Linked DNA regions of Homo sapiens. The protein of the gene in region 3 interacts with the protein of the main gene of each other region in a pairwise test. Each region holds a gene or a part of one and is shown on either strand. Other genes may lie near its edges. The genes, in order: PRPF18, CNNM3, AGR2 and RTL4.

Region 1 (9,731 bases), on a different chromosome or scaffold from region 3:
AACACACAGAAAAAAAGACCTTCATAGAAACAGAATTATAGAGAACAGAAAAAAATTTCATTGAGAATGATAATTAATATCCTTAGAGGCCAAGCGTGGTGGCTCATGCCTGTAATCCCACCACTTTAGGAGGCTGAGGTGGGAGGGGTGCTTGAGACCGGGAGTTCTAGACCAGCCTGGGCAAAATAGATCCCTTCTCTACAAAAAATAAAAAATTTAGCTGGACGTGGTGGTGCATGCCTATTCAGGAGGCTGAGGTAGGAGGATTGCTTGAGCCCAGGAGTTTGAGGCTGCAGTGAGCTAGGATCGTGCCACTGCACTCCAGCCTGGGTGACAGACGGGTCTGAAAACAAAACAAACAAAAAAATTCTTAGGTAACGTTGTAGCCATGAAATAAGAACATTAGGCTATAAAAAAGTTTGAGAATCAAAATGAACTCTTAAAAATTAGCAAAAATTTAAATCAGCAAAAATTTAGTAATTACATTAGTGGGTTAGAAGATAAAGTTGAAATATGAAAAGCAGGAAAGGTAAGAAAATAAGAGTCAATCTATAACGTTTATAGCCATTACAACAGAAAAGGGAAGATAGGAAATAAAGAATTAATGTAAGAAAACGTCCCAGACCTGAAGGACGTGAGTTTGTAGAATGAAAAGAATTCACTTAATACAGCGCAAATGAATAGGAAGAGTTCACATCAAGGCACAAAAGAATGCATGTTGGAAGGCCAAAGCTAAAGAGAAGATTTCAAAGACTTCAGAGAAAAGGTCGCTTACAAAGGTGCAGGAATTAAAATACTGTCATACTTCTCACTGATAGCACTAGAAGGTAGAAGACAGTAGAGCAGTACCTTTGCAATAGCTAGGGAAATATTGTCCAACTCAGAATTCTCTTCCTTTCTGAACCATCAAGTGAAGGGTAAATATAGGCTAATGACATCTCCCATGCACACATTCTCTGTAGTCATTATCGTCATAGCTGACACTTAAGTAGTGCTTACTGTGCTTCCCTTCAGTACTTTACAGCCACAATATGAGATGGACACTCACATTTCCCTGTTTTGTAAGTGGGGAAGAGGCGTAGAGAAGTGAGTTCTCAAGGTCACATGGCTAGTCAGTGGTAGAATTGGGATTGGAATGTGGGCAGTCTTGACTCTACCTGAGGATGTCCTCCATCCAAAGAAAAAGATCCAAGAGCTGAGATCCACCACAGAGCAAGGCGAGAGGAATCCCCAGGCTGGAGCTGCAGGGATGTCATGCTCCAGGATGGTAGCAGTACAAGTGGGTCCAGGTTAGAGTAGATGGTTGAAGGACTCCAGGAAGAAATGGAAGAGCTTATATTCCCTGGCATGTCTGATCAGATCCTGAGTGATGTTTGGGCATGTGAGGGTAGTCTCATGTTGGAGAATGGATTAGAAAAACAAAACAAAAAGGGGAAAAAAACTTATGAGAGGTCATCATCATAATATGTTATGTGGGTTTGCTTTGAACGATATTTGTGTAGCCTTTATAAGGAAAACCCTGAATATTGATTTCACTAAAAATGTGGTTTGGGGAGGATGTGGGAGAAAGTGCTTTTGAGGCGTGTGCGTGCATATGTGGGGCCAGTGGACAGTGGTGTAAGAGTGAGATATCCTCTGCTTCATAGTAGGAAGTCAGGAGATATCACTAATATCTGGTGGAAAAACCAAGCACTGTCAGTATAGTATTTAGAAATGTGGCAATAAATGCCAGAGGAAACACTTAAAACGTTTGAAAAGGGTTGCCTGTGGAGAGCTGGAATTAGGATTTGGAAAGAGTGAGGTAGAGGACTGCTATTATTTGATACAAGAATCGTGTGATTTTTTTTTTTTCCCCTCAAACAGTGTACACAGAAAACCCGGAATTATCCTTGGCTTTTTTCTTCCTGTCACAACCCATATCCTATCCATGTCAAAGCTTGATGGTTCTATATTCAAAGTATGTCTGGAGCCCGATCCCTTCTCACCACCTTCCTTGCTGCCACTGGGTCCAGCCACCACCTCTCATCTGAATTATTCCAGTGTCTTCTCTCTGGTCCCTGAGTTTCTCTTATTGCTCCTCTCCAGTTTCTTAGCAGCATTCCCCAGACTGATCCAGTTCACATACAGTCAGATCGTGTTGCTCTGTTGTTCAGAACCCTGCAGGGGCTTCCTAGTTCACAGAGTCCAAGCCAAAGTCCTTCAGGTTGCCCCACACGTCCACTTACCCCACTTGCCTGCTTTATTTTCTCCAAAGCACTTAGCATCGTTGAAAATTTTTTTTTATGAATTTATTTTGTTTCTTGCCTGTCTTCCCTTACCACAATTCGATCTCAGGAGGGTGGGATTTTTTCTGGCTTCTTCGCTACTGTATTTCCAGAGCCTAGAACAGTATGTATAGTAGGCACTGAATAAACATTTGTTAGATAAGGGTATTGCCTTTATATAAATAAAAAGCCAATTAAAAATACCACAAGTTTTTAAGCCATTTGCCATAAGCTAAGCTAAGCAGCTCATTGTTTTACTGGCTTAAGCATCCATAAGCAGTTTGAAACTGAAATCCTGAGGGGTCTAATTGAAAAGATTTGTTTCCATCTGGAAAATAACGATATTCTGTCCTGAGATTACACACCTATCTCTGCCATGCACTCTCAAATCTTTTTTACAAAAATGTATCATACCGCTCTGTGGTAACTACTTATGACTAAAACAATTGAGTTTCACAACCCTTGGCAGCTAAGATTTCAGGGAGAACACTAGTATATGTTTTTAAATCATAGAATCTGCTTAGTGAGTATAAATAGGCATCACACACGTCTTCTGTAAGGAGCACACACCTAAGATTCCAATTCTTCTGACATGGGGAAAACCACCTCCAAGGCAAACCATCAGTTTGCCTTCCGCTTGCGCATAACAATTCTTGCCATGCTCTGCTGCTGAGTGAAGCTATTTGTATTTCATCAGGGTGTTCTCTTGCCTGACTTTGCCCCTCTTCTCACCTATTCCTTCAGGAACCTTAAGATGCCAAATTAGTGCTATCATCTATATTTCCATGGCTACCGATCAAAGTTCTGCATACACATGATTAGAATTCACAGCAGGATAAGCTGGACTATGTGATGGAATGGTCTTTATCCCAAAGCAAATACCTGATTACACAGGGAACAACAACAACAAAAAGGAGCCAAGTGAATGACGTGTGCAAAAGCCCTTCTTGTGAATCAGTTGAAAGATAACCTCCCTCCACACCCCTAATTCCTAAATCTCATAATGTGGGCAATCCTTGAATCCACCAAGGACTTTAAATACTTCACAGTCTTGTTTCTCTGATGTGGAATCTGTTAGATTATGGCTCCATTCATAGAAGTATGTCATTTGTCCCTTAATATCCTCAGGGATTGGTTCCAGGACCCTGCAGATACCAAAATCTGGATGCTCAAGTCCCTGATAGAAAATGACATAGTATTTGCATATAATCTATGCACATCCTCCTGTATACTTTAAATCATCTCTAGATTACTTACAATACCCAACACAATGTAAATGCTATTTAAATAGTTATTATATGATATTTATTTGTATTATTTTTAATTCTTTTTTTGTTGCCGTTTTTTTCTGAATATTTTTTAACCAGGGTTGGTTGAATCCATGGACACATAACCCATGGATACTGACTGTGATTAATATTTGTGTTGTCTGCTTACTATGGGACCAATGAGATTTTGCAGGGATTTTTGTGTTGTTTGTTTGTTTTGGTGATTTTATTGAGCTTAACAGGTGTTAAGTTACGTAGATTTCAGTAAGACCTTTGGCAAAGTCTTTCCTTGTAAACAAGGAAATGTGTGTGTTAATGAATTGCACAGTGAATAGGATTCATTGCTGGTTACAAACTCTTCCCAAGATCGTTTTGGAGAGAGCTCAATCGTGGTGTGTCTCAGGTCTCTGCCCTTGCCCTGGCCTGTTTGCGCACGGTATTGAGTATTTGGATAATGACTTAGAGGACATGTTTACCGAGTGGTGGATGAGAAAGCTAAGAAGAATAACTAAAGCTAAATGTCGACCAAGGATTCTGAAAGATCACAGACTGAAGGATGAGTTGAAAGAGACAGGATGAAATTGAATAGTGATAGTTGTTTTCATCAGCTTAAAAAATCTAACTATAAAGTTATACACTGGAGAACTGGCCAAACTGCTGTAGAGACAAAAGGCACTTGAATTTTGTGAGATCGGTGGGAATTAGGTGTGTGTATTGTAGTTGTCTAAAAACAGCTAAGGGTCTTGGTTACAGTTGCCAAGATACAGAACAAAAGTAGTGCAGTGACTACTTCTAGTGAATTCTGCAAGAATGGCCAGGTCACGCTTGGAATGTTGTACTCAGTTTTTACTGACATATTAAAGTGGTTTTATTGTGTAATATTTGGTACATACAAAAGAATACATGTAAAACACAAGTTATAAAGTAAGTAATAAAATGAATGTCTAAAAGCCTTACTCCCAGTTTAAGAACTAGAACATTCTGAAAACCATTGAAACAATATTGTCCTTCCATACTCCAGAAGTAACCATTACCTTGCACTTAAGTTTGTCATTTCCTTTCTTTTTGAAAAACCGTTCCACCATGTTATATGTGCATTTCTAAGTAATACATTTTTTACTTGTTTTTGAATTTTATGAAAAGGATGTCACTGAAGGTAGTAACACTTCATGCCACTTGCTTTTTACTTTCGACATTGCTTCTAAGATTCATATACATCGGCCTTTCCCAACCAGAGCCCCTCATCTTGACCACAGAACACAGAAAATAATTGGAGTGTATTTTCTCAGTCCTCCAAACATGATACATAAATAGTCTCCTAAATTTTAGATGCATAAGGGAGAAGTTATCTCGTTACATACAATGGATGCCTTAGGCTGGGCATTTGGAGCTTAATTCTCTATTGGAACCTGGTTGAGACTGGCCGAATTGTTACATGTAGCTAGAGTTAATTCATTTTTACTGCTGTAAGATATCCCATTTGTGAGCACACTAAAGTTTTTTTCATATGTCCTCCTATGGATGGAAATTTGGGTTGTTACCAGTTTTTTGGTTTTGTTATTGTGAACAGTTCTGTGATGAACATTCTTGTGTGGACCTGCAGGTGCACAAGAAAAATTTCTCTAGGCATACATCTGAGTGAATTTGCTTGGGTCTGCTGCATTTTATGGGGACATTGACAAACTGATAACGAGTTCAGAGGAAGGCAGTTAAGAATAATTTAACCATGTCATAACCAACCTTTGTTTTCCTTATTTTCTTAGGGATTGAAGAGGTTAATGACCATTTGCCAGAAACACTTTCCTACAGACCCATCCAAATGTGTGGAGTACAATGCACTGTGAGATCTGTGTATGGTGTGTTAATAACAATAAGAAACTTAGGGAAGCAGGCTGTGGACTTCTGGAATTACCAACAGGAATGAGGAAAGAAGAAAACTGGAGTTTCCAGTCTCTGAGTTCTACCTGATGTAACTCTTGATTGGTTTTAAGAACTTTGTTGGCCTTCATTTCATATCTGACTGCAAGCTGATTTTTCTTTCTTGCTTTCATTTTAATTAGTCCAAAATTAAGTTTTAAAGATTTTTCCTCACAATTTAAATCCATAGACAACAGAAGGGGGTTTAAAATGACCTTTTTTTCAGTTGACCCGAAAGTTGTGGTTAGATGATTAAAAAGAAACATTTGAGGATGGACTTAATTATTTCAGTAAAATATTATAATTTGCCTATTGTCTTTTATGTAATATTTATATAAAATATTTTTATATATTTCAAAAACATGGGACCATTGAATGAAACTTTATAGTCCTTAAATGTTGCTGAACTTTTGCTGTCTTGCAATAGAATTTGAATGTAAATATTATTACTGGTATAACTCAAATGTTATTTTTCTTGCATTTCAAAGCTTGCTTTTATCTTCCAAGAAGTGTAAATTTTAGTATTTGTCATCTCTCAGGACAGATACAATTAATAGGAAATAGAAGTTTGAAGAAACAGAGATGGCACATCATAGCAAACTAAGTTCAAAACAGAATAACCCCAGTGCATCAAGGTTAAGGTGGGACAGTGGTTTGTGATGCCAGGGAGAGTGGGGAAATTGTGATGATGCTGGTAGACCTGGGCAGACTGTGTTCCCAGCCACACCCGCCAACAGAGGAGGAAGGTGCTGGTACTGATGTCCCCACCCGAGAGTCTGTCCTGGCCTTGGTTTTCCACAGTGAGGGCTCGTTCTAATGTTGCACAATGTCATACTCAGATATCACTGTGACCTGTTACTATGCTTTAGAACCCGAGAGGCCTCTGTTCACATGGCAGCATGTGTGAGTGGATGCTCCCGGAGCAGGTGGAGTGGTGGCGCTGGATAGCGGTAAGAGCGGGGGCTCCAAAGGCAGAACTTCCAGCTTCACATCTCAGCTCTGCACCTGCTCGCTGTATGACTTTAGCAAGCAACTGGATCTTTCTAAGCGTCAGCTTCGTTGTCTTAAATGGTAGTTGGTAATAATAGTCCATGCTTCGTAGCATCACTTTTGTGTTCAAGCAGAATGCTGAGCACACTGGCAAATAATAAGAGCTCGTAAATATTAGTTGTTGTGTCACTGTTGTCATTAGAGGGAAGCCAGAGTCCCTTTCAGGAGCCCTGTGTTTAGGGGCAGTGTGTCCTCACAAAACAATAACAGTAATAATGATGGTGTTAGCAGCAACAGCAGTAATCATGGAAACGTTGATTAAGCATTTACTGTATCTGAACCCTGCGGCTGTTCCTGCTTTCAGCCACTTCTGCATTGAGAAGGGCCGGGGATGTGGTGGAAGCTAGATGTCACCAAGTAGGGGGATGTAGATTCACAGCGGTCTATTCTGGTTCCTCTTGGGAGGTTCAAACCTTGGGGAGGTTCAAAAGCCAGTTTTGGCCACTTGTGCTCTTCTGCTGTGCCTAGACAGGATCGTTTCTGATGGTTATATGCATGGTGGTGGCTGAGGTCCGCTGTCTGGAATTGAATTGGGGTTCCTTGCCTCCCACTCCCTCATTTGGAAACCTTTTCTTGTTATTAAATCAGTTAGAGGGGGCCAGGCGCGGTGGCTCACGCCTGTAATCCCAGCACTTTGGGAGGCCGAGGTGGGCAGATCACGAGGTCAGGAGGTAGAGACCATTCTGGCTAACACTGTGAAACCCTGTCTCTACTAAAAATACAAAAAATTAGCCGGGCATGGTGGCGGGTGCCTGTAGTCCCAGCTACTCGGGAGGCTGAGGCAGGAGAATGGCGTGAACCCAGGAGGCAGAGCTTGCAGTGAGCCGAGATCGTGCCACTGCACTCCAGCCTGGGCAACAGAGTGAGACTCTGTCCCCTCCCCCCCGCAAAAAAAAATCAGTTAGAGCTTAGTGTAACTTACCAGCGCAAGTGAGAGACAGACTTTCGTAAGATATGACAGCAATCTAGATTTTTTATATAGGACCTATTTATAAATATTGTTGAATGAGTACTCTCCGAGTTACTTTTTCTGTATTCACCATCAGGTCACACAGTAGAGTAGTTCATTAATTTCTTGTTGTCTTCTGTTTTGCAGTTAGTTAATGTTCCATATAAAGAAACTGTCATGTGACACCAGTACCTCCTAAAATTGGTCAGTGTGGTAGATGGTTTAGAGAAAAAAGGAACCTGTTCCACAGGGCTGTGACCATTCGAGGGAAGCACATTCAAAGATGTAGATCCCCTCAGAGAAGTTTTCCATTTCCCTGAAGTTAAAGATCTTCAAATGACTGCAAATAACATGAGGATATATAGAAAAATGCCCTTCCCCAATTTCCAAATCGTGAAAATTTGGCTCAGCAGGTAAGTATTTCTGTTTGTAGTTGTTTATAAAACAGTGAAGACATACCTTTTAAAATCAATCACAGTCCTTAGATAAATTCCTCCCATTCTTCCTCCCCAGACTCCTATCCATTAAGAGTTGTGTCTCTGAATTCAAATTTCATAAAACACTGAGTTCCCTTCAGAAGTAAATAGTGCATTTCCTAGGAGTGTCATTGCCAACTGCAAAGACAGAGCAGTATTTTTCAGTGTTGCAGCATAGAGCCTGCAACAATCTGGAGGTTGTGGCTGTGATTTCAGTCTTTGGGGGACAATTAGGAAAGTAAAGCTAAGGCCAAAGATAATTGACATGTGGAAAGAGACAAAGGACAGTCCGAATCTCGTAGGAGGAAGGGAGCGGTCCTGAGAGACCAGAGCTAGGCAGGCAGCTGTCGCTAAGAATGGAACTTAGTGATCTGCTGTGGGCCCAGAGCGCTCAGTGAGAACTCAGAGGACTAGGAAACAGGCTTGATAGCAGTATGACTTTTAATGCTAAGCTCTGCCTTCTGGTGATATCCTGACCTACTCCAGCACTTCAGAGCACTCTAGGGTTTGATCTCAGTAAATAACTTGGAAATGCAACCACCTTTTTGTTGGAAAGAAAGTAATAATGTATCCGGAAAGAAAGCAGGTTGGAAAACACCAGTGTTTCCAAATCTTTGATAGATTTGAATTTGGGGATTCATATCATTGGCTGCTTTTCAGCCACATGTGCTCACCTTTGTACCCCCGCCTACCCTGCCCCACCCCATGAGGTTAATGCTTCACACAGAAGGATGGTAGAACGAAGTGGGGCAGTTTCAATGAAAGGGAGCATTAAGCTGAGCTCTGCCTCTTTCCTTTGTCTGCATGTCTGGTAAACACAACTTAATGGATTGTGCCTCCTCCTTCCCCCAGTATACTCCCATGAAGCCCCTAAAGAATAAGTTTATCCCATAGCAATCTATGGTATGGTGTCATATTGGGAGTCTTGAGCTGAAAAGTACTTTCTCACGGTATATTGACGCAAGAGCTTCCAGCTGTCCAGAGCGCAAGAGCCAGCGCCAGTCCCCAGAGGGTTGCTATGGGAACACTGTTATGGCAACTGGTTTTCATCACAGACTCTGCAGTTCCATTGGCTGAACTATAACCACACGCTAGTCCTTTAATGGTTAACAGTAACTTTAAAATCATTTGAAATTTAAAAATAATTTCTGGTGGTGTGGAATAGCTAGGGAGGGCAGTGTGGCCAGCCGCGCAGCTATGGTGTGAGCTGACCCCATTCAGAATATTGAAAAACATGCTCATTTAAAAAAAGAATGTATTTTTACGTTGATCAGAACAATTTATCATGAAAGCATTGATTATTTATTTTTCCCCCATTGTAAACTTTATACAACTTGCTTAAATGAATCCTTGTGTTGCCTCTGCTGGTCACTCTCACTAGGCCACTTCCTTCTGTTGAGTCTCTTCTTCCCTCTCTGTAAGCACCAACTTCCTCAACTTTTTCTCACAGTGTTCAAGCTTAACACATAATTTTACCAATGAGAGCAGCTGAGAAGTTTCGAGCTGCCTTTTGGTGATCTCAGACTCTTTCACTGAGCTTCAGGCCGGGACAGTCAAGAGTCACTCCTGCAATCCGCTGTCCTGGCCTTCCTTAACTCACAGTTTTACAACTTGCCAAAACTAAATTGCCTTTGCGGTCAACTGCTTTTCCTTTCAGACTTAGGAGATGTTAGGAACCATGAGCGTTGCAGTCTGTGCAGTCTGCGCCTGCCTTTCTAAGTTTGGCCATCCTGGGAAGTAGAAGTGTAAAAGCTGTAGAATTTGAAACTTTTGGACCACAACTCAAAACAAGTGTATGGAGACCCAG
Region 2 (2,615 bases), on a different chromosome or scaffold from region 3:
ACACACCTGTCAGAACGGCTGAAGTAAAAACATGTGGACACCACTAAGTGCTGTGGAGGATTCAGGGAAACTGATCATCCTAGGTTGCCGGTGAGGACATGAGTTTGACAGTTTGTGGCCAGGTGCGGTGGCTCACGCCTGTAATCCCAGAACTTTGGGAGGCTGAGGCGGGCAGATCACGAAGTCAGGAGATCGAGACCATCCTGGCTAACATGGTGAAACCCCGTCTCTACTAAAAATACAAAAAACTAGCCGGGCGTGGTGGCGGGCGCCTGTAGTCCCAGCTATGGGGAGGCTGAGGCAGGAGAATGGCATGAACCCGGGAGGCAGAGCTTGCAGTGAGCCGAGACTGCGCCACTGCACTCCAGCCTGGGCAAAAGAGTGAGACTCCGTCTCAAAAAAAAAAAAAAAAAGTTTGATTGTTTAAAAAACGAAACATGCAACAACCCTATGACCAAGCATTTACACTCCTCGAAAACTAATCCTGACACAGAAACCTGTACATGAATAGTCGTAGCAGCTTTATTTGGAATAGCCCCAAACTGGAAACATCCCAGGTGTCCTTCAGGGGGCCAATGCATACACCACGGAATACCACTCAGCAATAAAAAGGAGCAAACTGTTGACACATGCAATGCCTGGATGATCTCCCGAGAATGACGCCGAGTGAAAAAAGACAATCCCGAATGCTTACACACTATGCTCCCATTTATACAACATTCTTGAAATGACAAAATAAGAAGAGATGAACGATTAGTGGTTACCAGGAGTTAGGGAAGGTGGGGAGGGAGATCCTTGTGGGGATGGGACTTCTTTATCCTGATTGCAGTGGTAGTTACACAGATGTACATGTGACAAATGATTTGGACTGTCCACCCACATCGCACCAGTGTCAGAGTCTTTGTTGGAATACTGCATTACAACCATATAAGATGTAACCATGGAGGGAAACTAGATGAAGGGTGCGTGGGGCCCTTACCTTTACAACTTCCTATCATCTGAAATTATTTCAAAATATAAAGTTAGGAAAAAAGAAAGCAACAGCTCTAAGTGCAGTATGGCATCCTGGATTGGCTGCTGCAGCAGAAAAGGGACATTGGGAAAAATGGTAAAATCCAAATAAACTCTAGCTATTAGTATGATTGCACCTTTAGTTTTGATAAATGTACCAAGGTTATATGTAAGCTGTTAACATTAGGGGAACCTGGGTGAAAGGTGTATGAAACTTCTGTGAATCTGGGCACGGTGGCTCACGCCTATAATCTCAACACTTTGGGAGGCCGAGGCAGGAGGATCGCTTGAGCCTAGGAGTTCGAGACTACCCCAGGCAACATAATGAGACCCTATCTCTACAAAAAAAAATTAAAAGTATTAGCTGGGTGTGGTGGTGCCTACCTGTAGTCCCTACTACTCAGGAGGCTGAGGTGGCAGGATGGCCTGAACCAGGGAGGTCGAGGCTGCAGCAAGCCGTGATCACACCACTGCACTCCAGTCTGGGCGACAGAGCAAGATCTTGTCTCAATAATAATAATAATAATAATAATAATAATAAATAAATAAAAAATTGAAAACTCTGATGCCGACTCTGATTAAATCACAAGCTCTGGTGGCAGGTCCACGTATTTTTAATTTGCCAGGTGATTCTGGTGTGCAGCCAAGGTTAAGAATCCCTGATCTTAGCTCACACCTATAATCCCAGCACTTTGGGAGGCCAAGGCAGGCAGATCACCTGAGGTCAGGAGTTCAAGATCAGCCTGGCCAACATGGTGAAACCCCATCTCTACTAAAAATACAAAAATTAGCCGGGTGTGGTGGTGGGCACCTGTAATCCCAGCTACTCAGGGGGCTGAGACAGGAGAATGGCTTGAACCTGGGAGGTGGAGGTTGCAGTGAGCCAAGATCTCACCACTGCACTCCAGCCTGGGTGACAGAGTGAGACTCCATCTCAAATAAACAAACAAAAAACCACTGTTCTGGAGAGAGGATTTTAAAGCATCTGTTTCCAACCCGGGCTTGCTCTCAGAGTTTATTCCTTGAGGACAATTTCTAAGCAAGGATATCACTGTTGTTTTGACCTTCAGTCCCATTTATAAGGGTCCAAATTCCTTTGAGAAAAGTTCCAGAAATCCTCCTCCCTCCCTACCCAATCTATGATCCTATGTCCTTGTGATGCCCGTTTCCACACAGCTGAAGAACTACGGAAGGAAAATGTAGTAAACTAGAAGAAAAAGACAAATGCCTTCCTGTTCCCACTTCTCTAAAACCCCATAGCTAGGAACAGAAAAAAAGGAAAAGACTTGAAATGTTCTAGAGATATAACAAAAACTTTTTTTTTTTTAAAGAGGATCCACCTGGTTCATGAACCCTCCCTCACTGCTCTCTGCACATCACGGCCACACAGCACCTGCAGGGAGGCTGTGGGGAGGTGTGGAGCAGGTGCAACAGGCAGCTACTCTCCTGGGGGCCACACGGCGGAGAGAGGATTCGATGCAGCATGACGATCCCTTCCTCCCAGGCATGACCTCTTCTCAGAACACGGGAACTGACAACACTGCGAGTGGCAACTCAGCAGGTGGGCAGAGAAGCAGAAAGGGGCCCTCAGCACCACTAGGCCA
Region 3 (7,025 bases):
TTTTATTTGGCTGTTTGAAATAGCACTCTTCAGTCTTCTAGTACTCTTCTACTTCTCTGTAGTCAGAGAAGTAGTCAAGATATACTTTCACTTGAAATTTATTTAAATGCAAATGATAGATTGTGAGATGACAGAAGAGGGATTTGGTAGAAAGAACAGACATTGCTAATATTTCAATGAGTTTAGAACAACCATGTTTGTATCTTCTATTTTTTTTTTTTTTTGGAGACAGAGCCTCTCTTTGTCACCCAGGGTGGATTGCAGTGGTATGGTCTCAGCTCACTGCAACTTCCGCCTCCCTTGGTTTCTCATGCCCCAGCCTCCCGAGTAGCTGGGATTACAGGCATGGGCCACTGTGCCCGGCTAATTTTTTTGTATTTCAAGTAGAGTCGGGGTTTCTCCATGTTGGCCAGGCTGGTCTCGGACTTCTGGGCTCAAGCGATACGCCTCCCAAAGTGCTGGGATTACAGGCATGAGCCACCACGATTGACCTCAATTCTGTTTTTAACCTTGTATGTACACATTTCCTGTAGTTGCAATTATAGCATAGAAGGTCTTAAATTCTTTTTTACTTAGGCCTTTTCTGTTTTGCCATTATGTTTATTATTTTTATGGATGACAACATAGTGCATTTTGTCTTTTTTTTTTTTTAATTTATTTTTTTTTATTGATCATTCTTGGGTGTTTCTCGCAGAGGGGGATTTGGCAGGGTCATAGGACAATAGTGGAGGGAAGGTCAGCAGATAAACAAGTGAACAAAGGTCTCTGGTTTTCCTAGGCAGAGTGTGTGTGTCCCTGGGTACTTGAGATTAGGGAATGGTGATGACTCTTAACGAGCATGCTGCCTTCAAGCATCTGTTTAACAAAGCACATCTTGCACCGCCCTTAATCCATTTAACCCTGAGTGGACACAGCACATGTTTCAGAGAGCACAGGGTTGGGGGTAAGGTCATAGATCAACAGGATCCCAAGGCAGAAGAATTTTTCTTAGTACAGAACAAAATGAAAAGTCTCCCATGTCTACTTCTTTCTACACAGACACAGCAACCATCCGATTTCTCAATCTTTTCCCCACCTTTCCCCCTTTTCTATTCCACAAAACCGCCATTGTCATCATGGCCCGTTCTCAATGAGCTGTTGGGTACACCTCCCAGACGGGGTGGTGGCCGGGCAGAGGGGCTCCTCACTTCCCAGTAGGGGCGGCCGGGCAGAGGCGCCCCTCACCTCCCGGATGGGGCGGCTGGCCGGGCAGGGGGCTGAGCCCCCCACCTCCCTCCCGGCGGAGCAGCTAGCCGGGCAGGGGGCTGACCCCCCACCTCCCTCCCGGATGGGGCGTCTCGCCTGGCGGGGGGCTGACCCCCCCCACCTCCCTCCCGGACGGAGCCGCTGGCCGGGCGGGGGGCTGACCCCCCCACCTCCCTCCCGGACGGGGCGGCTGGCCGGGCAGAGGGGCTCCTCACTTCCCAGTAGGGGCTGCCGGGCCGAGGCGCCCCTCACCTCCCGGATGGGGCGGCTGGCCGGGCAGGGGGCTGACCCCCCCACCTCCCTCCAGGACGGGGCGGCTGGCCGGGCGGGGGGCTGACCCCCCCACCTCCCTCCCGGACGGGGCGGCTGGCCGGGCGGGGGGCTGACTCCCCCACCTCCCTTCCGGACGGGGCGGCTGGCCGGGCAGAGGGGCTCCTCACTTCCCAGTAGGGGCGGCCGGGCAGAGGCGCCCCTCACCTCCCGGACGGGGTGGCTGGCCGGGTGGGGGGCTGACCCCCCACCTCCCTCCCGGACGGGGCGGCTGCCGGGCGGAGACGCTCCTCACTTCCCAGACGGTGTGGCAGCCGGGCGGAGGGGCTCCTCACTTCTCAGATGGGGCGGTTGCCAGGCGGAGGGTCTCCTCACTTCTCAGACGGGGCGGCTGGGCAGAGACGCTCCTCACCTCCCAGACGGGGCGGCGGGGCAGAGGCGCTCCCCACATCTCAGACGATGGGCAGCCGGGCAGAGAAGCTCCTCACTTCCTAGATGGGATGGTGGCCGGGAAGAGGCGCTCCTCACTTCCTAGGTGGGATGGCGGCCAGGCAGAGACGCTCCTCACTTCCTAGATGGGATGGCGGCCGGGCAGAGACGCTCCTCACTTTCCAGACTGGGCAGCCAGGCAGAGGGGCTCCTCACATCCCAGACGATGGGCGGCCAGGCAGAGACGCACCTCACTTCACAGATGGGGTAGCGGCCGGGCAGAGGCTGCAATCTCGGCACTTTGGGGGGCCAAGGCAGGCGGCTGGGAGGTGGAGGTTGTAGCCGAGATCACACCACTGCACTCCAGCCTGGGCACCATTGAGCACTGAGTTAACGAGACTCCGTCTGCAATCCCGGCACCTCGGGAGGCCGAGGCTGGCGGATCACTCGCGGTTAGGAGCTGGAGACCAGCCCGGCCAACACAGCGAAACCCCATCTCCACCAAAAAAATACGAAAACCCGTCAGGCCTGGCGGCGCCCGCCTGCAATCGCAGGCACTGGGCAGGCTGAGGCAGGAGAATCAGGCAGGGAGGTTGCAGTGAGCCGAGATGGCAGCAGCACAGTCCAGCTTCGGCTCGGCATGAGAGGGAGACCGTGGAAATAGAGGGAGAGGGAGAGGGAGACCGTGGAAAGAGGGGGGGGGGGGGGAGGGGGAGGGGGAGGGGGAGGGAGAGAAGAATTTTTATGACTACTCACCTAGACAGGATTAAAAAACTGCATTTTGTCTTAATATACCATGTGGCCATTATATTTTTGGGAGGTTGCTTTTCTGTGGTACGTTTAAATAATGTTACCATTGGCATCTTGACAGAACTGTTTCTGTTGAATGATTTCCTTAGGATAAATTCTCAGTGGTGGAGGAGACTGATGGGACAAAGTCAATTAATGACTCATGCTTTGTGTTTCTTCAATGCTTTTAAAAGGGGGACTTATTTTCCTTACAGCTGTAACATTTGATTTCCTAAATATTTATTTATATTTAAAAAGTATTTGTATGTGTTAAGATATTTTGCCATTCAATACATTTTAAGAAGTTAACCTTATTTCACGTCCGCCCAATGAAAAAATATTTTGCTATACTATAGGAGAAACTTGAATCACTTAGAACTTGTCATTTAAAATATTTGTTTATGGAAGGGAAACCTCTTTTTCCTCTTGTTATCCCTCAGAGATCTTTTTAAATGGAATGTTTTACCTTTTTCAGCACATGTAAGTTATCTACTTGTGAGAAGGGAGCTGATTAACCTGTGATATTTTTGCTGAAGATTTGTATGTCATTAAATCAGCAGTATATGCTCAACACCTACTAATGATAGTAGTCACTAGGAGAGATAGAAAAGATTGAAAATATATCCCTGGAAAAATTAATAATGCCAAAAGATCTGTTCAAAAAAGGTTTTATCCAAAAAAGTTAATCAAGACAAGCAACAGATACTGCAAAGCATTATATACAGCACCATAGTCCAGGGGCCAAAGAAATCAGGAGGGGCTGGGCAGTAGAGGAATTCCATATATTAATGAATGTGAGATTAAGTATAGAGTGAAGACATTAACACACAATTCTAATTTCTGTTAGGCAGAATGCTCCCCTACCCTGATGCCACAGCCTTTCACGTTTCCTAAACCCTAGTAACCTCTGATCTCCATCTGCCTCATCAACACGTCACCACCCTTTGCTCTTCTTCCAATTAGTCACATGTTGGCTGAATTTATTTCACTCCAGTACTTTAGGACCTTGACAGACAAATCGATTACAAGGTCAATTCCCAGGATTTCTTCAGGGTGTGTTCAGGAGTGCAGATGTTCTTTGGATGACCTTTCTACTAAATTAGACCTCTGAAGGAGAAAGCTACTTGCCAGAGGCTTTCCCTGAGAGCATTAGGTTGGGCAAAATCTGACTAAAATTTAATTACTAAATGAAAGTGTGTACCTTAGAGTTCCTGGCCAGAGTTGACTCTAGGTAGTGATGTGATTTTCTTGGGATGTTTTTCTAAATATTCTTTTATGCTAAAGCACATGGCTTGATACTTCTGTTGATTAAGCTCGTGTCTACTTACAGTCATCTAGTGAGAACCTGTGGTGTGGTGAGATGATAACTTGGTCTTTGGTCTTCATCATTTGAACTAGTTTTGGTTTTGTCTTGTCCCTTCCTTGAGCATTTTGTGTGTGTTTAATCCTATTTGGTAAACGAACCACTGTGAAAGACCAAGTTGGAGAAAACAGAACACCCCCAAAACATTTATTTTTTTTTTTAGAAAATCATGGCTCACTATGGTAGTATACAATATTGTTTTCACACATGTACACTTGAAACCAAATTTCTAAAACTTGTTTTTCTTAAAAAATAGTTGTTGTAACATTAAACCATAACCTAATCAGTGTGTTCACTATGCTTCCACACTAGCCAGTCTTCTCACACTTCTTCTGGTTTCAAGTCTCAAGGCCTGACAGACAGAAGGGCTTGGAGATTTTTTTTCTTTACAATTCAGTCTTCAGCAACTTGAGAGCTTTCTTCATGTTGTCAAGCACTAATGGGGGATAAAAGCAGGAGAGTCAAGACACCATCGTGCGTTATATCGATATAATAAACCCCAAACTTGGATGCTCAATTCATTATTTAATGGGATGCTTTTTTTTTTGAGACAAGGTCTCACTCCCACTCAGGCTGGCATGCAGTGGTGCAATCTCCACTCAGTGCAACCTCTGCCTCCTGGGTTCAAGTGATTCTTCAGCCTTAGCCTCCTGAGTAGCTGGGATTAGAGGTGTGCTCCACCATGCCCAGCTAATTTTTGTATTTTTGGGAGAGATGGGGTTTTGGTATGCTGGCCAGGCTGGTCTCGAACTCCTGAGCTCAAGTGATCCACACACCTCGGCCTCCCAAAGTGCTGGGATTACAGGCGTGAGCCACTGTGCCCAGCCTGATAGGATGCTTTTTATCATGAGGTGAATAGTTGGTAATCTTATTGTAATTTAAAAAAATTATATGAAATGGCTTTTGTGACAATCTAGTTTTCTAGTGTAGTCATTCCTTCCCAGATCCTTCATCTCCAACCCTCACTTCCAAAAGAATCCTTTTATAAGCTCTAGCAGCAGAAGATAATTTTGGCTCATTTAGAAGTAAATTTAAATCATGTTTAAAAGAAATGTCTATTAGTAGGTGTGTGTAAATTGTTTTAGAAGTAGGGGAAATATAAATAATAGCAAACCAAGTGCTTTATGCAGATGAATTCTTTAATCCTCATACAAACACGATTAGAACTTTATATATACATAATGAAACAGGCAGAGAGAGGCTGAGTAGCTTGCTCAAGGTCACACAGCTAACAAGTAATGGAGCTACTGTTCCAGAGCCCAAACTCTGGGTCACTGTTTCTTCAACAGCAATTCATCAAAATGAGGTATGTGATCTACTAAAAATAAGATGTCCACTCGATAGGCATTGAACAGCCGCTTATTCACTCTTCCTACAAATCTTAATTATTAAGTGCCTGTTCTACAAGGGATTGTGATATTACTTGTGTAGGACACGTGCCTTTTAAGAGCTTAGTCTTATTAAAATGTATGGTATTATCTCAGTAATGGCTGACAGTACTTGGAATGTGCTTCCCCTGGTCCAGCACACACTGGAAACATTGCTAATGGACCATGATGATCTCTCCTGCTTCCTAGACACGGCCTCACTTCTCTTCCCAACATGACGTTCTAAGTCAGCACTGGCCAATAGAAATTTCTGTGATGATGGAAATGTTCAGTGTCCGGGCATTGAGCACTTGGAATATGGCTAGTGTGACTGAAGGAATGAATTTCTAACTTTAACTTAAGTAGCAACATGTGGCAAATGGTTAACATATTGGACAGTGCAGTTCTAGGCAGCCACTACTAATTGATCAGAGTTGGTTCCTAGGATAAAACCCACTTTTCTTCCCAGAGGACTAATCAGATGTCACAGCTAGCTACAGCGTTGCATTGAGGTACCTCATCTGCCTTAAGTCAGTGTCTCTCTCTCTCTCTGTCTCTCTTCCATTGATGGCAACCATAGGGAAGGTAATTTTCTTGGCAATCATTTGGATCATCTTTGAAACTGATCTTTAAACTGAACCTGAATTTAATTTTAAGCTGGACTGCACATTCTTTCACTTTTGTTATTTAAAAAATTAAGACATGCAGATTATTACAATTATTACACTCAGTTCTGTGATAGAAGGAGTGTGTGCTCGTGTACCTAACAGAAAACCTGAAAATCAGGTAATGTGGTCATAGAATCCTCCTAGAGAAAAAGATACCTAATCTAAATAATTCATCTTCAATTGAGATTAAAAACAAACAAACCTGAGATGGAAAGAGTGTGATTTGCCTGAAGATGCAAGGCTAGTTAGGGTCAAACTGAGTCCGAGGCGTCCCTAAGCCTAGCTCTCTCTCACCTCACCATGCAGCCTCTAGTCCCATCACTACAGCAATAGAGGTGTTCAACTCTTGGGCAACATCCGAATTGAAGGTCACACTTACACAGAGCTGTATCTGCAGGTTCGTAAGCATAGAGACGATTTGAATATCTTCCAGTGATATCGGCTCTAACTGTCAGAGATGGGTCTGCAAAGATAAATGAAGCAAAAGGGAATGGAATGGTTTGTTTTCAAACAACCTGTATTTATTGCCCCGGGGAGCTGAAGTTCATGTATTCATGTCCTGTGAGGGAATGGAGTGTGTCTGCACTCACAGGAGCTCTGATCCATCCACTCTACTACCCAGCCCCTGGCAGTTAGTAGCAAATGCAGGGCTGGAAACATCAACAGCTGTGCAGTGCTATTTGTGGAAAAGGTTATGAACCCTTCTGTTCTATCTATGGCAACCTGAAAACAGAATAATATATATTTAGGGGTGACATGGTGTTTTTTTTTTTTTTGGTGAAAACATTAACATTCTCTACTGCAAAATTATTTTAAATTCTTGAAACGATTATGTTGTAGTTTACATGTTTCTAGATCATTGGAAACCCACATCCAATGCTAGTTTTCAAAACG
Region 4 (10,547 bases), on a different chromosome or scaffold from region 3:
CTTCAGGAAGTCCTCATCCCAAGGACATACATGTTCCCTCATGCTTGAACTCTTTTCATTAAAGAGATAGAGCCCTTTTCCCCACAATTGGAAAAAAAAAAAAAAAAAAGCTGAAGACCAATCTACTCCTGGGAGAGGGAACACATTAGTATAGTGATTAGGACAGATTATATCATTCCATGAGGGATAGTTTTTAATAAGCTGGGGAGGGGGCAGGCAAAGTAAAGACTAAACCTACTCTTCCTGAGGTCCCACAGAGTCAGTCACAGACCAGCAAGACACAATTGGAGCCTTCTCTGTCACTATCCTCTAACCTCAGGCAAGGTGCTTCTCAATGGTCCAATATTCTGCAATGTCCTATGATTCTGCAATTACACTTTACAAATTTGCTCAGAGCTGGCCCCATTTGCATTGCTATTAATGGTGAGGACAGCAAAGTCCTTAGCTAATCCATGAAGTGAAGCTCTGTTTACACATCTTTTATTAAGATTAATCATTAATTAATGTAAGGCTTTATCCCTTGATTACAGGGATCCCATTCTGATATAACAGTTTAAATGTTCTCTTGAAAAATGAAACATATTTTTCAATTACAGTCATTCGTCGTCCCAATTCAGGCAAAACTTTTATTTAAATAAATAATTAGTCTTGGCAATAGCATCATAATGTATGAATGTGTAAAGTTTGAATGTGCTAATTGTTGGTTCCTGCATTAGTCTTTATAAGTGACATGTTGCTATATATATACGTGGTATTGGGCTAAGAATTATCCAAAGCAAGTAACACTGATGCAGTCCTGCCTGGCTCACCGGAAACTTATTTTCTAAGGCAGGAGCTTACTCAACTGATTTGAACAGATATTCCATGCTTTCTCCTGCATTTTCCTTTGCTGAATTCCTGATCAAGATCCTACAACTTGCATTAGTGTTGTTTGACTTCCTGAGGTAGAGATAGTGCTGAGTGTTAAAACCCATAATCACACTGAGATATTTTTTCAACACTCCACAGTATTTTAAGAATCACCTCTTTTTACATTCCATTTCTTTTGCTTTTGCCATTGTTGAGTATTTCTCTAGCATGCAAGTAGTTAGAAACTTTCCTTGAAAACAAAAACCTGCTTTCAAATTGCTCAATTTGTTACAGCCTTTGTGATGTTGTAGTCATTTTTATGCTGGATACAGTGTTATGACACAAATGCCACACGCTGAGAAGTCACAAAAAATTGTTGTAGGACTATGCTAATTAGCAAAACAAAATGCAATCTCTATAAGGCAGAACCTCAAACAATAAGCCACTGTTTGGGGACAAATAGGAAATAGAAGAGGGAAAAAGCCAGGTTGGATTCAATCCAGAAATTGGTTATCTATGAAAATCAGTAACCCTTTCCCCTTGGGGAAAGAAAGGTCAATAGTTTCTTAGCATACTGAAGGCTGGGATTATGTCTTACAGATCTTTGCTATAATCAATACCCTACTCATAGTGTGTGCTTGACAAGAATTTGATGGTAACCAGAAGATGGCATTGTTGATAACAATGAATTCCACCATTTGTCAAAACTTAGCTAATTTGTGAGGGTTCCTTTTTATGTCGTTTCCTCACAAAATATTCATTATTTTCTGAGACTCTGTTCAATGCAAAGTCTGGACATGCCATGTGGGTAGAATTAAGGTTAAAATATGGTCTTTGAAATGTGACATTACCTTAAATGGCACTCATTCTATATGGTGAGGGGATAATTTTGCTCCCCAGTGGACATTTGGCCATGCCTGGACGCATTTTTGGTTGTCACAAATGGGGTGTGGGTTCCTACTGGAATCTAACAGACAGAGGCCAAGGATGCTGCTAAACATTCTACAATGCACAGGGCAGCCCCCCAACAAAAGGAATCATCTGGCCTAAAATATCAATAGCATCGAGGTTGAGAAACCCTGCTTAATGACTGGGAAAACCCCACTCTCTGGATTCCTCATAACAGTTTCTCTTCACCTACGATGTTACATTAAACTCTGGTCTACATATACCATTTACCACTATGGTCAAGGCTGTAAGAAGAGAGGAGAAAAGAGTATGTCTCAATTACATTTTAACAGTCATACCTGTCATGGTATTTGAATAGGCCAGGCCATGTAAGTAAACCTAGTCTAGAAGCTAGGTAGTTCTGGGCTTAAATTAGTCAGATAGTGGCTTCCATTTTTGGCTTTGAGCCACTTTTGCAGATGTAGCCTCTAGGTGCAAACTACCCTGGGAGACATACACACTCAGCCACCAAGTGGAAAACCAGAATATGTCCCTATTGACAGAGAAGATGAGCCACCCAGCCCCAAGGCTGACAAGCAACCTAGACAAAGCTTGGGTCCCTGCCTAAGTCAGCTTTCTAATTGCACTAGGAGATACTCTGCTAAGTTTGTTTTGGAATTCGTATAGTAATGCCTGGCATTTGTATGGTGCTTTTAACTTTTGAAAGGATTTTTCTTTATATATCCTTGATCTGAAGAGGTTAGAAGGATAGGGCAGAAACAGGATAGGGCAGGAGCAGAGAAAGAAATTTTAACCTTATCCACAGTCCACTGGGAAAGCTCCAAATTTCAGAAGCACACACAGTCCTCATATGTTAAAGACAAGTGCATTGGATATAGGGCCTTTGAAGGAAACAGCTCACAAGAATAAGGCTTTTGCTCTCCCTGAGCACTGCTTCTGGTTGCATCTGGGCTTGGAGTGGAAGTCTCAGCTGGACTGCAGTTTGGCTAAAAAAAGGGAAATGCCCCCAAAGTTTTATCCACGGTCACATATTCTACTCACCCTCATGCCAAAGGGAAGACGGCTTAATCACAACATAGACCTCCCTTGTTTGGGAGACTGTATATTAGTTTGCTGGTTCACAGTAAAACTGCCTTTGAATGAAAGGCAAAGAATCAAGTGATTTTTTTTTTTCAGCGACCCTCTTGGCCAATCTTTAGAAACACTTCCTGAAGTATTTAAGTTGTTAAGAGGTGGAAGCTCCACCCTCACTTCTTCCTCCCCAACTCCCTTCCCCCCAGACACAAACTCTTCATCCCCCAGGGTAATAATTTTCTTTTCTCCAATACCTTGCTCCCATACAAAAGCTAAATACTCTCCAGAATATTGGACTGCCTCGGGACTAGGAGGACTAACGACAAGGGGAAAATTTGTCTTGCTTGGTGCCCCGAGCGACTTTTCCAAGGTAGGCTAGGAGGAGAGTGCTTAGGGCTTCCACTAAACATAGCTACTACCAGCTTCACAGGCTCCGCAATGAAAACACTCGGCCATTTAGGCAAGGGAGATGATTCTGGCATTTTCGGGAGCTTACACTTAGGCTCCCAGGGCGTGCAGAGGGGGTTAAAGAGCAACAGGAAGTACAGTGGAGTTTTCTCAGAGCTAGGGATTGTTCTGAGAATGGGTAGGGAAAGGTTTTCAGGTACCAGCCCGGCGTCCAGAAAGGCAGAGACTCACATGCCCCTTTCCTGAGAGCGCTAGGAAGGGAGATAAAAGACAAAGCCAATATTTGGGGCTGTGCGGCCAGGCCATGAAATGCTGCCAGCTAGTGGACCTATGCGCCTGCAGGTTGCAGGTAGAAGTCTCAGGCTTGTGGTGGGGGTGGGGCTATTTAGCCCCTTCCAGTTGGGCTCAAGAGGGTGGACATTCTGAGCGCCAGGCTATAAGGTGAAAGAAGTGGAGAGGTGCTTCATGTGAAAGGAAGGCGTAAAGATCAAAGAGTGGCCCAAGTGTCCGGTGACACCGCCCCTCTCCCTCCACAACAGATACCACTAAGCAACCTAGCCCCCCGCCCCCATCCTACAATATCACTTTCCCTCCCTGTATCAATCTAGGCTGGATCTTGGGAGATCGACCCTATGGGTGAGAGGGGCACGGATGGGAGAATTAGGTAGCTCCAACTAGATTAATCTAGATCTATCAGGGATCCAAGCCTGCCCCATAGGACCCCAGGTCAGTCCCTGGCGACTCAGCGCTCCGCTGTCTCCCTGTCCTACCAGCCGCCCGCCGCCCTTACTCCCCCAGGTTCAACTCCCCTTCCTCCTGAATGACCTATGGTCGCCGGAGCAGCCTCGCCACCACCGGCCCAGAGCCCAGGCTGACGGGGGTGGGCAAAGGTCACTGCCCAAAGCAGGGGATATTCAGGCCAAGGGGCAAAGAGAGACTCTGCTAGCCATATGCTCCGAGGGACTCCTGTCCCCTCTACCCGCACCCGCGCTTAGCCTCCCACCTCCCCTCCCGTCTCTGCCACCACCCAGGGGAGGGGGAGGTCTGGGGAAGCAAACAAACGAGACAGAAAATTCCGTACCGAGGGGGGAGAGATGAGACGGTGGGACGGGGCAGCGGGGGTTGACTTGGGGCTGCGGCTGCGGCTTCCTTCCACCCCTGGCCGCGGAGCTGCAAAGAAGGCAGGAGCTGCTGCCCCTGCCGCCTGCCCCGTCCTCCCTCTTTCCCTCTCGCCTCCCCGCCTCCCCCGCCCCGCCCCGCCGCCAGGAGATTGAGAGTGGCTTCGGCCCGGGGGCTGGGGGAGGTGAGGGGTGCTTTTGCCTACCACGGTTGTCTCAATCTCTCTCTCTCTCTCTCTCTCTCTTTCTCTCTCTCTCTCTCTCTCTCTCTCTCTCTCTCTCACACACACACACACACACACACACCCCACATCACAACCACGACGGGTTGTCCGCAGCTCGCAGCCACCCCAAAGGGAGGAATAAAGAACAGGAGCAGAGGGAAGCCGGGCGCAGAAAGAAGGGAAAAGGAAGAGCTCAGGGTTGGACATTTTTGGAGACAGGGGTGGGGAGGATAAAGGGAGCGTGCCTCCTTGATTTTCCCCTCCCCACCCCTCTTTGCTTTTCTCTCCCCTTCTCTGTATAGCATATTCCAGAAACGGCAGCAGAAGGGGACAGAAACCTCTAGTGTAGAAAAGGGTTTTGGAGGGGTAGCCAGCGCTCCCGCCAGCCGCTACCTAACAGCTGGAGCTTGAGTGTGCGTGTAAGAGTGTGAATGCGGCTCTCTCTCTTTTTTTCTCTCTCTCTCCCCTCTCTCTCCATCCCTTCCTTCCTCCCTCCTTCTCCCTCTCCTTCACACTACAGTGTCAGCTACCCCTGTCAGTTTCCCCGTGTCAGTTTCTTCCCTAGCTCTTATTGTGTGTGACTGGCTGCGTGAAGGGAGTGGGTGCGCTTGAAGGGGCTCAGGTTGGGTTAGAGAGCTGGGAGAACAGGGTAGGGACATTGGTAGAGCAAAGAGTTTCAGGGCACTGGCGAAGGTGAAAGGTGAGGAGGGCCGATCTGTTACAGGCAAGTTTGGCAATAACTGAGCATCCAAAGGGGAAGCCAAGGTAGGAGCCAGTACTTGCGCTCGTCTTTACACCCCGCCCCTTTCCCTGTGCTCATCCGCCCACCCACCCATCAGCCTAGAGGCCCCGGGCTGTCCCAGTCGGCTGCTGTTTCGCGCCGCAAAAGAGGAGTCCGGCAAGGCGCCGCACCACGCATCCTGGCCGGTGGACATCCAGACGACACAGATTTTATCCGAAAAAACCACTTGGCTCAGGGTAAGTCTACAGGCGGCCGGTGCGGTCCATTTCACTGCCTGAGTGCTGCTGAGGGGCAAGGGGCAGCGAAGTGCGGGTTGAATGAAGATGCTGGGCTGCTGTAGGCGGAGAAGCATTGACTGGCTGGCTGTGGGCTCAGGGTGGTAGGGAGCAGAGGGAGGCCAGCAACAGATTGTTTTGGAAGAGGAAATGCAATGGGGAGAAGCTCCAGGGTTGATAGGACAAGGTGCTGCCTGCGATGACCAAAAACATCCTTTCACTGGGAATATTTTCCTGAACCACAGCTTTGTCCTATCCCTGGACAATGATTTGCTCCATTCTTGGGTAGATTTTAAGATCCGTGGGGAACCTGCTCCCAGGCCTCCTTAAAATCGATTAGTGTGGCCCTCGGACCAAGGATACCTGCCCTTCGTCAAAAGCCACCTTCAGAAATAGAGAGCCAGGAGCCGGATCATGAAGGTTCAGGAACCAGGGTCCCCATTTACCTTCTTTGTCTTGTATCCTTCAAACTTAAGAAATGGCCAGATTTGTTTGCCTGTCTTCCTTAAAGGAACCAAGAAATGCAAATGGAGGGGCATCAGTCAGATCTCTGCTTCAAAGTGGACACCTCCCTCCCTCCCTAGACACACATCGACTCGGACAAATGGTCATGATCATGTCCCACATATGCAGGTACTGAGCTGAATTCACAGATGCTGATCTTTCTCCATGGTCTCTTAGAATGAGACTAGAAGGGCTTTTTCCCTATTACAACCTGGGCTCTTTGGATCGCAGTCATGTACCTGGTGATGGTTAAGTGTTTAGCAAGGTTATTACTCCCTCAGGAAAAGCCTGAAGCGGGGAAACCAGCCTGAAAGATAGAACCTCTGAACTTTACCCGAGTTTATTATAAGAGTAGGAGAGACATAGACTAATTGATAATGCTCTTTTTAGAGATTGTGCATGTTAACCCTTGGCTTCAAATGTGAAATGATTACAACATTGACATGGCACACCCAGACCCACTTTTCTATTGCCATATATTTATCTTCATGGCATTTAACAAGAATGACAGATTTATATATCAGCATTCATAATTGTCTATTGTTGGTGTCATAGGTTTTTTGATGTTTTATTGATGATTTATATTATGTCTCCTTTCCCATAAACTCTTTAAAAACTGAGATATAAATGATGTCACATGGTACCTTTCATCATGTCTTTAAAATCTGCTTATTCTAAATCAAAAGGCATGTTAATATATTTACATAGTACGAAGTTCGTTTCAAAGCAAATATATAGTCTGGGATAAAAGAAACCCACAGGGTCAAGGAGTCTCTGAAGCTCTCTCTGTGAGGTCGAAGGAAGAATTGAATGTCACCTAAAATCCACATTTTGGTCCCTGGAAGATGCTGTTTTCATAAACTTTCACAATATACATAGGGAGAGAGAGAAAATCTGTGTGTGTGTGTGTGTGTGTGTGTGTGTGTGTGTGTGTGTGTGTATGTAGTTTTTCAAGGACCTCAATCAACCCCATACAATCTTGGCTCTGCTTTTGTAACAGAGGGGAGCAGGAGGTGAATTTGTGCTTCCAAAGCACCCAGGTTCGTCTGTTAAACTTTCTATTTATTACTATGTTACCAAAATGCAATGAATTGCCTCTTTCCAACTCAGCAAATAAGAGAAACGGATTCTGCATTAAGTGAAACTGTTTATGTTGCATCAGGCAATTCTTTCTAATGTTCACTGCTGAGAGAGAGCAGAATGAGGATTACTCAAGTAGGATCTGAAAAGGTGCCCATTCTGTTACTTTTTAAAGCAACCATAGTAAGTATTTTCTTAGGTTAAAATTACACTTTCAAATAGATATACTAAAGACCGGGTTGCAGACAGGTAGGAAAGAACTGGCAGCATCATAATTGGGGAAAAACTCAAAATATCAGCACGAATGAAGCCTACAGTGTAGGTTTTGCTCTGTTCTTGGTGATGTGAGTATCTGGCTGTTGAGGTAAGTCCTGATGGTTACCCAGGGGATAAGCATGTGAGCAGGTTCAGGGATTCAGAACCAATGTAGCCCCCGGCTTCACTGATACTAATTCACCTGGCTTCAGTGTACATCTCAACATGGAGACCTGAACCAGATATCTGCCATCCTTCCCAGCCACAAGAGCTATAATCCTAAGATTCTGTTCTTTCTATAGCTAACAACTAAAACCGGAATGGCACGCAGAACCACAGTACTTAGAGAAGACTAGGCCAGGAAATTAGAGATGCAGAAGGGAGGAAGATGAGAGGAATATGAGAGAACCGAAGATGTTTTGAAACAAACAGAAAGAAAACTATCCAGGTGTTTGCTTTGACTGGGAATGGAATTAATCCAGAAATCAACTCATATGTGAAGCATCTTAAAATTGCCTGTATTTGACTTGCAAACACTGTGTAAACAATGATAGAATTCCATAGTACCAGGGAATTGGGAACCTTGGAGTACATTCTCAGTGTTGCTGTCTCATTTCTCTCCTTACAATATTAAATTCCAATCTGCAAGCCATTCAGGTGCTTAGTTATTGAATGGATATTTCAAATGTGTCATGATGCTTTCCTGTAGCCTGTTTTCGAATATTCTAATTTATTTTTTGCCATGGCTCCATCACTGAAGGTGGTAGATTGAAGCATTTCTGCCTGCTTTACTTCTGCCAAAGGTTCCTGTTTTCACCTTAGTATACTAAGCTGTTCAGATGCCTCCTGCTAACTGATGAAGAATATAAGGCGCAGAATCTCTCTCCCCAAAGTACTCTGTGCCACAAGGTGCCACTGGCCTAATCTGGCCCAGTCATTTGCCAGGTTTGCAGGGAAAGGTATGACAAAGTTTGCAGCCTATAGACAGAAATAAAGCCTCATTCTAGGCAGAAGTTATTCCTCATCCCACAGATGAGGGATAAGCTAAGGCCAGCCATCATGTCCAGAGCCTAGTAGCTGACATATCCACAGTGTCATCCTTTCTAAAACTCACGAAGCTTTTCTTCTGTTGATGGGCCCCTCAAACTTTGTCCAGTGAGACCAGCAGAGCCATACTGCCAGCAAGGAATGATTCCTGAATGACTCAACTGTGGTCTTATAAACAAACATGTACATCATGCTCAACTGAGTGAGCACAGATGATTTAAAGAAATTATAAAAGCTGATAGGGGCTAAGAAAAATTGCAATTTGCTGGGTGAAGGGAACTTTGCAAGTTTCTTAGGTTTGGTTTTCTGTCACCAATTCTGGAGTTGGCCCTTGGATGGTGGTGGCCAATGCAATTGCCCCAGGTTTTTGCCTTAGCAAAAGGAAAGAAAAAATAACGATAAGAAACAAGCGGGGATCTTGGAGGGGTCAATCCTCTCATTTCACCTATAGAGAAATTGAAGTCTAGAGAGTAGAAATGACCTGCCTAAAACAGACTACTAGCTAACAACAGTGGCAAAACCACAACCCAGTACTGTTTGCTGATACGAAATACATTTTCTGAAGTTCTGTGGAGATCTTCCCAAGAAATCGAGAGGTAACTAAAGTCAAGTTTACCAAGATCACAGCCCTCTACTTCCATTCCATATGTATGTATACGTGTTTATATTATATGCTGCTGTCATATCTTTGTGACTTACCTTCTTGACCACCACCTCCCCCTAACACACACACACTCACACACACAATCCTATCTTGCTAGCTAAGAAAACATTATATGTGTCTATAGCTAGCGTATTCAGATGGAAGGCAGAATTAAACATGACAAAAATTTAGCTGCTCACATTTATGTGTCTGATCTGGCTCACACCACCAACAGCAAGGCATCTAGAAATCCCAGTCTGTTCTGCACCATAGTAGTTTTGGGGAATGGAAGCTAGCAGAATCCAGTGACTATGGCTCTGGTTTAGTATACTCAGTCTCAGAATCAGCCCCCCAAATGCATGTGCAAATACACACACATGCACACACACACAAACATGCACATACAGTCACACTCTTTCCGAAAAATTAAAACAAAGAAAATAGAAAAGATAAGGCAGGTGGTTTTTAGAGCAGAGTACAAGAAGAAGGAAAGGTTTGCAGACGGATATTCTTACCTTCCCCCATTCTTTAGCCTTATTGCCTAATTTTCATTAATCCCACCCTAATTTATTTTAGGATCTGAGAAAATAGAGCAATGCAAACATGTTTACTACAGCCCAGAAGGATGATCTGAAAAACCTCCACATTTGAGTGAGAATATCACAAGGATAGGGAAAAGGCTAGGATGTAGTGAGCTAGAGCCTTGCTACTCCAAGTGTAGTCCCCACACCAGGATTGCCACCATCCCCTGGGAGCTATCTATAAATGTAGAATCTCAAATCCTTCCCCAGACCGACTGAATAAGAATCTGCATTTTATGAAGATCCCCAGTGATTCATTTTTATACTAAAATTTGAGAAGCACCGGGCTAGAGCTTATCCAAAAAGCATCTGAAAGATATTTGAAAATAAACAATTACCTACTGAGCATGTAGGGACAATTCATGTGGCTTATCAATTAAAAAATAAAATATAAACTTTTTCCAGGTCCACTTATCTTATTATTCACTGTAAAACCCTTCAGTGTGGGCAAGAGAGTTCATGTAAAGGGAGTGAGATCATAGGATTTGTTTATTTACCAGGACGACTTGGGTGTGGGAACTCACACAGACCTGAGTTCAAATCCTGGCCCTGCTCACGAATTACTAGCTGTGTAAACATGCACTTTGCCTCTAAGCCTCACAGTCCCCATCTATAAAATGGGATTAATAATAGTACCAACTGGCACTGGGCTGTCATGAAAAATTAAATAAGACCGTATAATGCACTGGGATATGGTGAACAATCAATAAATAGAAGATATAATTCATACGATTTGGCTAATAATTTTAGTTTGGTAGAAAACCAACCACTAGATGTGATATATTGGGGCACCTAGCATTATTTCTAATTGACGTGAATCTTACTGGGTTTTCTACAG

Evidence for each region.
Region 1: the proteins of AGR2 (region 3) and PRPF18 interact in binary tests that used the Homo sapiens proteins (3 or more experiments, as listed by UniProt).
Region 2: the proteins of AGR2 (region 3) and CNNM3 interact in binary tests that used the Homo sapiens proteins (3 or more experiments, as listed by UniProt).
Region 4: the proteins of AGR2 (region 3) and RTL4 interact in binary tests that used the Homo sapiens proteins (3 or more experiments, as listed by UniProt).

Annotation. Positions count from the first base shown.
Region 1 is NC_000010.11:13,624,965-13,634,695, forward strand, and holds the end of PRPF18 (pre-mRNA-splicing factor 18), read left to right. Parts: intron 1-5,295; coding exon 5,296-5,376; 3' UTR 5,377-5,895; downstream 5,896-9,731.
Region 2 is NC_000002.12:96,833,268-96,835,882, reverse strand, and holds the end of CNNM3 (metal transporter CNNM3 isoform 1 precursor), read right to left. Parts: 3' UTR 501-2,615; downstream 1-500. UniProt on the Homo sapiens protein: Probable metal transporter.
Region 3 is NC_000007.14:16,788,426-16,795,450, forward strand, and holds the end of AGR2 (anterior gradient protein 2 homolog precursor), read right to left. Parts: intron 6,595-7,025; coding exon 6,511-6,594; intron 4,533-6,510; coding exon 4,483-4,532; 3' UTR 3,386-4,482; downstream 1-3,385. UniProt on the Homo sapiens protein: Required for MUC2 post-transcriptional synthesis and secretion. May play a role in the production of mucus by intestinal cells. Proto-oncogene that may play a role in cell migration, cell differentiation and cell growth. Promotes cell adhesion.
Region 4 is NC_000023.11:112,076,892-112,087,438, reverse strand, and holds the start of RTL4 (retrotransposon Gag-like protein 4), read right to left. Parts: upstream 4,424-10,547; 5' UTR 4,322-4,423; intron 1-4,321. UniProt on the Homo sapiens protein: Involved in cognitive function in the brain, possibly via the noradrenergic system.